Linked DNA regions of Homo sapiens. The protein of the gene in region 2 purifies or fractionates together with the protein of the main gene of each other region. This does not show direct contact. Each region holds a gene or a part of one and is shown on either strand. Other genes may lie near its edges.

What was found.
Region 1: the proteins of RO60 (region 2) and GFPT1 fractionate together in Homo sapiens (co-fractionation; one large-scale study listed by BioGRID). This does not show direct contact.

Annotation. Positions count from the first base shown.
Region 1 is NC_000002.12:69,335,228-69,339,726, forward strand, and holds part of GFPT1 (glutamine--fructose-6-phosphate aminotransferase [isomerizing] 1), read right to left. Parts: intron 3,339-4,499; coding exon 3,218-3,338; intron 2,829-3,217; coding exon 2,671-2,828; intron 1-2,670.
Region 2 is NC_000001.11:193,061,592-193,067,089, reverse strand, and holds part of RO60 (RNA-binding protein RO60), read right to left. Parts: exon of another isoform or gene 4,764-5,498; intron 1-4,763. UniProt on the Homo sapiens protein: RNA-binding protein that binds to misfolded non-coding RNAs, pre-5S rRNA, and several small cytoplasmic RNA molecules known as Y RNAs.

The sequences.
Region 1 (4,499 bases), on a different chromosome or scaffold from region 2:
AACTCTTAGCCTCAAGTGATCCTCCCAATTCAGCCTCCCAAAGTGCCAGGATAACAGTTGTGAGCCACTGCACCCAGCCTGTATGTAAAATTTTTAAAACTCTGCTGTATATTTGAAAATCATCATCATAAAATGTTGAGGCAAATTAAAGTTCTCATAAACAAAGGAATGAGAAATGTAAAATATATATTTCCCTTGGCAGCTCACAATTCCAGAAACATTTTATGAAAAGATTAAGTCAATGGCATCCATCCAAACAATCCCATATCCCACATACACCACGTTGTAGCCCTTGTTTCACAATCTGTTATAAATAAAGAGCCTCTGGGATTCCAATCCCCCAATCAAATCCTTAAGTGCTACTAAAGGTGGCTGGTCATTTATTCAGCCACAGGATGGAAACCCAAGCACAAACATGTAACACGTTTTAATTACCATATGGAGAAAATTCAAGTTTCAGCACTCTGTAAATTATAGTGTTAGCAATATCGAAATACCCAAGAAATAAAAATCTCACTCAAGAGTTTTTATGCCTGTAACCCCAGCACTTTGGGAGGCCAAAGCAGGCAGATCGTTTGAGCCCAAGAGTTCGAGACTGGCCTAGGCAACATGGTAAAACTCCGTCTCTACAAAAAAATACAAAAATTAGCCAGGCATGGGTAGTGGCCTGTACCTGTAGTCCCAGCTACTCAGGAGGCTAAGGTGGGAGGATCACCTGAGCCTGGGAAGGTCCAGGCTGCAGTAAGCCATGAGCACCACTGCACTCTATGTACTCTGGATGATAAAGAGGAGAGACCCTGTCTCCAAAAAAAAAAAAAAAGGTGGGGGGCCAGGTACAGTGTGGCTCATGCCTGTAATTCCAGCACTTTGGGAGGTTGAGGCAGGCAGATCACTTGAGGTCAGGAGTTCAAGACAAGCCTGGCCAACATGGTGAAACCCCATTGCTATCAAAAATACAAAAATTAGCCAGGCGTGGTGGCAGGTGCCTGTAATCCCAGCTACCTGGGAGGCTGAGGCAGGAGAATCGCTTGAACCCAGGAGGCGGGGGTTGCAGTGAGCTGAGATCACGCCACTGCACTCCAGCCTGGCCAACAGAGTGAGAGTCTGTCTCCAAAAAAAAAAAAAAAAAGAAAAAGAAAAAGAAAAGAAGAATTTTTATATAAGAATCACAAACTTTCTACAAAAAATTCTCTATGAGAATCTTTGAGGGAAAAGAATTCAAATGCAGTTATGTACACATTAACATTGTCTTTCACAATCCTTTAATTAAACTCAAATCCACCAATATCCCAACATCTTATTAGATAATCAGCAAGAAATATCAAACTTAAGTAGAAAAATATTGAGAAAACAAAAATGTGAAATCATAAAAAGTAACACATTGGACAACATAGTGAGACCCCATCTTAAAAAAAAAAAAAAAACTAGCCTGGTGCATCTGCAGTCCCAGCCACTCAGGAAGCTGAGGCAGAGATCACTTGAGCCCATGAGTCTGAGGCTGCAGGGAGCTATGATTCCTGTCACTGCACTCCAGCCCCAGCCTGGGTGACAAAACAAGACCCTGTCTCTAAATAACAACCAAACAAACCTAAAACCCCAAAAAAACACTTGTGGAGGGATAACATCTCTTGTATTTATACAACTTTCTAAGATTTCCTATTTTTATTAGCCACCTAAATTTATGCATATTCCAATTCCAAAGAGCAAAGTAGTCTTACCAGGCCTTCAAAACACAAGACAGTACCTTTAAACCTCCCCAGAGCAATATCTAAAGAGAAAGATATTGTCATACAATACTCATTAAAAAATTTTTTTTAATTGCCAAATTTTAAATTTTTTTTTTTTTTTTTTTTTTTAGATGGACTCTTGCTCTGTCACCCAGACTGGAGTGCAGTGGCACAATCTCGCTTCACTGCAACCTCCACCTCCCAGGTTCAAGTGATTCTCTTGCCTCAGCCTCCCGGGTATGCTGGGATTACAGGCACGTGCTACCACACCTGGCTAATTTTTGTATTTTTAGTAGAGACGGGATTCACCATGTTGGCCAGGCTGGTCTTGAACTCCTGAGCTCAAATGATCCGCCCGCCTCAGCCTCCCAAAGTGCTGGGATTACAGGCGTGAGCCACCATGCCTGGCAGTTGCCAAATTTTATACCAAAGGTGTATTCCTCCTTACAAACTTTCAGAGGTAGTATGTATATTTTTACATTATTTATTAGAAACCATAAATAGGTAAATAAAAATTCCAAAAATGGTTAAAGTGGATGTTTCTAATTTGTTACTTTTCAAATTCCAGACTATACTTCATAAAAGAAGGGGATGTTATATACTTGTTATGTATCCTACTGTGCCTAGCAGGAGGGCAGTAAGCGATAGACAAGGATAGCCAGCAGAGACCTTTTCAAAATGGACTTACATTATATACATAAGTCCCTTTTAAACTCTATCAGGAAGAGGGAGAGAATGACAAGTCTTTTATCTATCTGACCCTAAAGTCCTACAATAATTACAATGATTAGTAAAATGTGTGAGTTCTATAACTGCTAACAAAAATAAAATGTGTGAGTTCTATAACTGCTAACAAAAATAAGATACAGACTAGTCTACAGACTAGTCTGCTTCACTGACACTATGATTAAATAATCATCAGAGAAATGAGTCAAGAATTTACCTTTGTACTGGCCACACCAATCTCAGGACCAGCATTAATATGAACTCCACAATCTGTCTCCCGTGATATGGAACTGCCAACTGTGTTTGTGATCCCCACAGTTAAAGCTCCTCTCTCCTTACAGTAACGAAGACCCATCAAAGTATCTGCTGTCTCACCTGTGTAAAAAGTAGGCCAACCATAACACACAGAACAGTTTTAACATATGCTGTTTCTTAGGAGCAAAAACAAATTGACCACACTTTCAACAATATTACTTGTTTTAAATAAAATACAAAACATCCACTTAATAAATTTATAAAACTTTAAGTAATATGGCTTGTCAGGATCTCTCTTCCTTCTCTGTCATTGAAAATCCAGCTCTTTGAACACAAAAGGTGTTCATTTTTACTAATTCATAAAGAATTATGTAACATTAAAATAAATCTGTATTCGTCAAGTCATCTGCAATGCCAGTTTATCTTTAAATATCAGCTTTTGCCAAGATATGCTAGAATTATTAGAAAGAATAACTTTCCTTCCTTTTAAGTCTTTAAAATTAACACACCTGATTGACTAAGGAAAAAGCAAACATCATCTCGAAAGACTGGTGTGTTTCTGTCCAGGAAGTCACTTGCTAGTTCCACCATCACAGGCAACTCAGTCAGCTCCTCAAGAACTTGACGTGTCTGCAGAGAAAATATGACTTGGTCACAGAACTTTCCTTCAAATACTCTTTCATCGGACTTCTTTGGATTCAATGTATAGTTTTTGCTTTTTCTGATTACAAAAATGACACGTTAGAAAATAAAAACAACCCAGATTAAAATATTTAAAAAAAAAAAATCAAAATCCTACCACTTGAGATAAGCATGGCTAACATTTTACTATCAGTCTCTTTAGACAACTATCTATGTATACATTCCTTTTTTTTTTTTTTTTGAGACGGAGTCTCGCTCTGTCGCCAGGCTGGAGTGCAGTGGTGCCATCTCGGCTCACCGTAACCTCCGCCTCCCGGGTTCAAGCAATTCTCCTGCCTCAGCCTCCTGAGTAGCTGGGACTATAGGCGTGCGCCACCATGCCCAGCTTAGTAGAGATGGGGTTTCACCATGTTGGCCAGGATGGTCTCAATCTCCTGACCTCATGATCTGCTCGCCTCAGCCTCCCAAAGTGCTGGGATTACAGGCATGAGCCACTGCGCCTGGACACATACATTCTTATAAGGAAACATACCCACACATATAAAACGTTTTGAGAAGTGGAAAGAGCATGGTTCTGAGTCAGCTTGTGTGTTATCTCTAACCTCCCAATTCCTAATCTTTAAAATGAAAATTCATGTAATACCCATGTTAGGGAGGGGTTTCAAATCAGGTAACAGATGTACAAATATATAGAGAAAAATTAAACACTTTAAAAGTACAACGTATTCATAAATATGACCATTTCCCAAAAGAAGTCAATATATTTTAGAAATCTTGTTTAACAGGGCTCACTATTTTCAACTTTTGTGGCATGGGGCAGGGGGAATGAAGTAGGGAGCAGTATGCCTCTGTGCAAAACGTAGTTTAACCTTCATTTCAGTAAATTTCCATTCTAATTATTTTTACACTAAACATCGGAAAATCAAAAACAGAAAAATTATCTTTTAGGCAGCAAAAACTTTAAGCTCAACCAATGTATACATTTAGTGTTGCTTTAATTCTAACTGTGGAGCTCACCTAACCTGACAGCCTTTCACCAGCCTCTTCAGGCAAGTGGCCCTCCCCATCTCTCACCCATCTCAGCTTTCCTCCTTCTCAGCAATAAAGAACTTAAAGGTGCCCTTATTTCATAGCCCTTAACTTTTGCTT
Region 2 (5,498 bases):
TAGAAAAGTATTATGAGTGAGCAAGGGAGTATAAAATAATATTGTCTCAATAATCCAGAAAGATTTGTGCAGAGAAGGCAAATTGTGATTAAGTGCTGTAGTGGAAAAGTGAGTGAGCAAGGAAGTATAAAATAATACTGTCTAAATAATCCAGAAGGATTTGAGCAGAGAAGGCAAACTAAAAAACTGATAAAGTTTAGGGAAGGCGCTCCAGGAAGAGGTTTCTGAAATCTCGATCTGTCTTTATATTCTAGAAAAGAAACTGTCTAAGCATCCTGTAGAGCCATAAAGACATGTTGACAGATACGGTCATAACTTAAAGAGGAACACAAGATAAAAGAAGTTTTGTTCTGAAGATCATGCTTACTTGAACATGTTTATATATTACAAGGAAGGCTAAGGATAGAATCTTGGTGAATATTAACCATTAAAAGCTAATGAGAGAAAGGCCTTTTAAAGAGAGACGGAAAAGGAGGTGCACAGAGTTGAAGAAAACCGACAGAGAATAGTATCATGGACTACAAGGAAGAGAACTTCAAGGAGTGAATGGTTGGTAATTTCAAATGGTCAGAGGAAAAGTAAATAAAAGGCTAGAAAATGACCACTGGGTTTAGCAAGTAGGAGTGACTAGTGAGAGCAACTGCAGTAGAGTGGTATAAGAAGTAGCTTGATTACAGTGAGATCAGGAGAATATGCAGTGAGGAAGAAACTTCACAGCTAGACTACTCTTTTGTAGACACATACTTATAAACTATGAAGGAAAGTAAAAGAGGATGGGACTTAGAGAAAAAATCTTTTTACCTTTTTCAATGGGAAGATGCTAACATTGAAAGATTCAATTTGGAGAGCTGAAGATACAGTAGAGAAGGGGGATAACTGAAGGAATTTCTTAAAGAAATGAGAATGAGCTTAGAGCATCCAGGTTGAGACTGGCCTACTGACAGCAAGAGATATTTCCTTTATCTTTTAAGGGTAAAGAGTATAGGTAAAGATAGATTTGAAGGAATGAGGGATAAGGAAACTGAAGACATTCCCCCCTGACAGGAGATGTAGAATGCCAAATGGTATGTGGAGAAGTTTGGTAGAGAGGGGAGGAATGAAAGACTGGGTCTCAGAGAGGGGAACACATAGTGGTGTAGGGATAAGTGCATGGGAGAATGAAGAGCCTCACATTTTGAATGTGACTGAGGGGGACAGTGATCTGAATTGTGTTCGGAATATTAGTGTCAATATTCCAAATAAGACGCTAGTATAAATTTGCTTATGTTAGTGGAAGCCTAGGTCTCAGGTGGCATCAGAGATGTAATGATCATATTAGTCATTAGGGACAAATTCATAGTTACTGAATACAGCATAGGTTGAAACTCCTGTTGCAGTGGATGCCTGTTCTCCTATTTATTATTATCCTCTTTTCAAATTTGGCTTTTATCTCTACCTTTCGATCCAAAACACTTTAAGAAGACTAACATGCTTCTCAAAGACTGATACCTTAATTGCCAATTCCAGTAGACAATGTTATGTTTTTCTGATCTTTACATTACATAGACTTTGCTAGTCTCTCCCTCAGCTTTCATAAAAACAGGCTCTGGTTGCACTTCAACCTGTCTACTTCTGCTTATTAGTTTTATTTGTTAGATGAGTAACACTGAAATGACATCTAATATCAGATAATTCTACTAAACTTGCTTTCCTGCACCAAGGCCCAAGTGGTGGGATTTAAAAGGTCCCAAACCAAACCTCAAAATTCCCTCTCCCCTCAAATTCTTTTCCTTGTATTATTCATTGTGACCACATGTAGCTACATTATTGGTTCCCTTGAAAGTAGAAACCAAATCTTATCATTTTTGTCTCCTCTTTTGTATTGCTTTTATGTAATTAGCAATACATACTTAAAGCCAAATATCATTAAAGTTGACTTTCTGAACCATTTGCCAAATAATTATGCACAATTGGTTTCTCTTTCCCATAACACATTTTGAGAATAAAAGCCTCAATATTTATAATGCAAAATATAATACAAGTCTTTAAGATAAATTCTGTAATCAGAATGATAAATGTACTATATGCAGGTAGTGAAAAATATAATCAAGAAAAAATAAAGTTCTAAAGAAAAGTAATGAATACTGAGTAAAAATGTCATCTAAGAACAAAATTTCTGTTTTTCTAACATATTTAATATTAGGTATTCAGGTACTTCTCTAGAGCAAGCAGCAAAATGAACTTTTAAATCTATGAAGGATGTCTAAGAGGTAATCTCTAAGTATAATCCTTATAATCCCTATTAGAAGAAATAAAGTTACTTATTCATGGACTCTTCCTTTTGCATGTTATGATATAAATGACAACCCTGAGGACATACCCTTTCAGTATTTCTGCAGCAGAAACTGCTCAGGTTTTCCTATGCTTCTGTGACTGTACTTTCCAGAGTGCAACATAAAACAGTGGAACAGATAACATTATTAGCAGCCAGGGCACCTTCCTACTTGATTATATAAATTTACCAGGGTCATATTCATATTTTAAAAGACAGAAAACAGAATAACATGTCCCAAGTTACTCTCCTTCTTGTCACTGAGTGTGATACACACATAAACTCAAAATTCGGCAAAGTGATGTGATACTGTGGCATCTTATAAGAGAGAGTACCTGGTCTTTGGACATAATACCCAGCAGAAAGTTTCAAAAACCCGTGGTATTTCCTGAGAAATAGGAGTGTCTTTGTTACATTAATGAGGCAACATGGGCCCCTAGGTAGCTTCAGGATGGGGGCTAATCACTAGAAAGACCAACTATATGTTTAGAGGAATAAACTGGTCAGGCCAACCTTCCATGAAAGGAGGAGGACTTGAGATCAAGTTCAGCCATGTAGCTAATGATTTAATCAATCATGCCCATGTGATGAAACCTCATAAAAACTTTCTTCATCGATACTCAGTGGAGCATCCTTGGTGAACAAAAACTGATGTGCTGGGAAGGTGATGTGCCCACATTTCACAAGGATGGGCATGGAAGTTCTGCATCCTTCCCTTGCCCCAGACCTTGCCATATGTGTCTACTTCCTGTTTGGCTGTTCCTGAGTTGTATCCCACATTTCACAAGGATGGCATGGAAGTTCTGCATCCTTCCCTTGCCCCAGACCTTGCCATATGTGTCTACTTCTTGTTTGGCTGTTCCTGAGTTGTATCCCTTATAATAAAACTGTAATTGCAAGTAGAGCACTTTCAGTGAGTTATGTGAGTCATTCTAGTGAACTATCAGCCTTGAGGGGATTATGGGAAGTCTTGAATTTGTAGTCCGCAGGGCAGAAGTGTGAGTAGCCTGGGGACCCCATTTACAGCTGGTGTCCAAATTAATGGCATTCTTAGTGGGGACCTTGTCCTTTAATTTGTGGGATCTGATGCCAACCCTGGGCAGCTAGTGCCAGAACTAAACGGAAGTGGGGGACACCCAGCTGATGCTACAGAATTAGTGTTGGAACGCAGACACCAAAGGCAAAAGTGACAAAATAAAAAAATAAACTGGACTTTATCAAAATTTAAAACTTGTATTTCCAAGGACACCATCAAGAAAGTGAAAAGACAACCCAAGAAAAAGGAAAATATTTGCAAATCATACATACAATAAGTGACTTGTATCTAGAATATATTAAGAACACTTACAACTTAATAATAAAATGATAAATAACCCAAGTAAAAATAGGCAAAAGATGTGAATATTACTCCAAAGACACACAAATGGGTAAAGAATCTGAAAAGGTGTTTTTCCAAAGAAGATTATCAAATGGCCAGTAAACACATAAAAAGATGACGAACATCATTAGTCATCAGGGAAATGCAAATCAAAACCACAATAAGATACCACTTCACATCCACTAGGACAGCTATAATCAAAACAATAATATTAAGTGTTGGTGAGGATTTAGAGAAAATGAAACGCTCATATACTGCTGGTGGGAATGTAAAATCATACAGCCACTTTGGAAAACAGTCTGGCAGTTTCTCAAAAGGTTAAATATAGTTAGCATATGACCGAGGAATTCTACCACACACCTAAGAAAAATGAATACATGTATCTAAACCAAAAGTTGTATCCAGATGTTTTTATCAACATTACTCATAACGGTCAAAAAGGAGAAGCAACCCAAATGTCCATCAACTGATGAAGGGATGAAAAAAATATGGTATATCCATACAATGGACTATTATTAGACAATAAAAAGGGATGAAGTAGTGATACATGACACAATGTAAACAAACCTTGAAAACATTATGCCAAGTCAAAGAAGCCAGTCACAAAAGGCCACATATTGTATTACAATTCCATTTATATGAATTTTCCAGAGTAGGTAAATTCATAGAAATAAAAAGTACATTAGTCTAAGGTTGTCAGAGGCTGTCGGAGTGGGGGAACACTGGGAAGTGACTGCTAATGGGTAGGGGATTTCTTTTTGGGTGATGAAAATGTTCAGAAATTAGTGGTGATGACTGCACAACTCCGTGAATATACTAGAACCCAATGCACTGGATACTTCAAAATAGTGAACTTCATGATATGTGAATTATATTCTAAAAATCTATTATTAAAAATACAAACATAAACTAGCCAGGTAAAATATATTTGGAAAGTTATTTAAATAAACAAGCACTTAACTCTGCTATTATCTATATCAGAATGGAGAGCACCAATACAATTGATTACACAAAAATTATATTTAGCCCTACAATTTTTATATTTGACTTTTAAAAGCAATTTGAGATACCCACAAGACATATACAGCAACTTAATTTCTTCTTTCTCCAACTGCCATCATCTCCTGCCTCAAAGCTTAAGCTCCATTATCAGTGGTTTAGAAGGCAATTGGGCAGTGAGTGAGGTCAGAACCTGGTCATCAGTTAATCCATTCCTGGATAATCAAGTGTTGTAAATCCAGATTAACAACAAAAAGATATAGTTAATTCTTTGGATGGGCCTGACCTATCTATCTAGTGCTCTTAAAACACACCATACAACTAATGTTGTATTAAATCTCTATAAATTAAGTTCTTGAGAAGTTAAATATTACAATACTATAATATTAAAAGCATGGACACTTTTTTTTTTTTTTTTGAGACAGACTCTCACTCTGTCACCCAGGCTGGAGTGTAGTGGCGCGATCTCCACTCACTGTAACCTCCGCCCTCCGAGTTCAAGCGATTCTCCTGCCTCAGCCTCCTGAGTAGCTGGGATTACAGGCGCCTGCCACCGCACCCGGCTAATTTTTTGTATGTTTAGTAGAGACGGGGTTTCACCATGTTGGCCAGGCTGGTCTTGAACTCCTGACCTCGTGATCCACCCGCCTGGGCCTCCCAAAGTGCTGGGATTACAGGCGTGAGCCACGGTGCCCGGCCAAGCATGGCCGCATATTAAATTGGTTGTGGATATTTTATACAATGTCCATTTCTCTACTTTTAAATTTAATTTAGAATGCAAAATCAGGAAATGCTAGTAACACACATTAT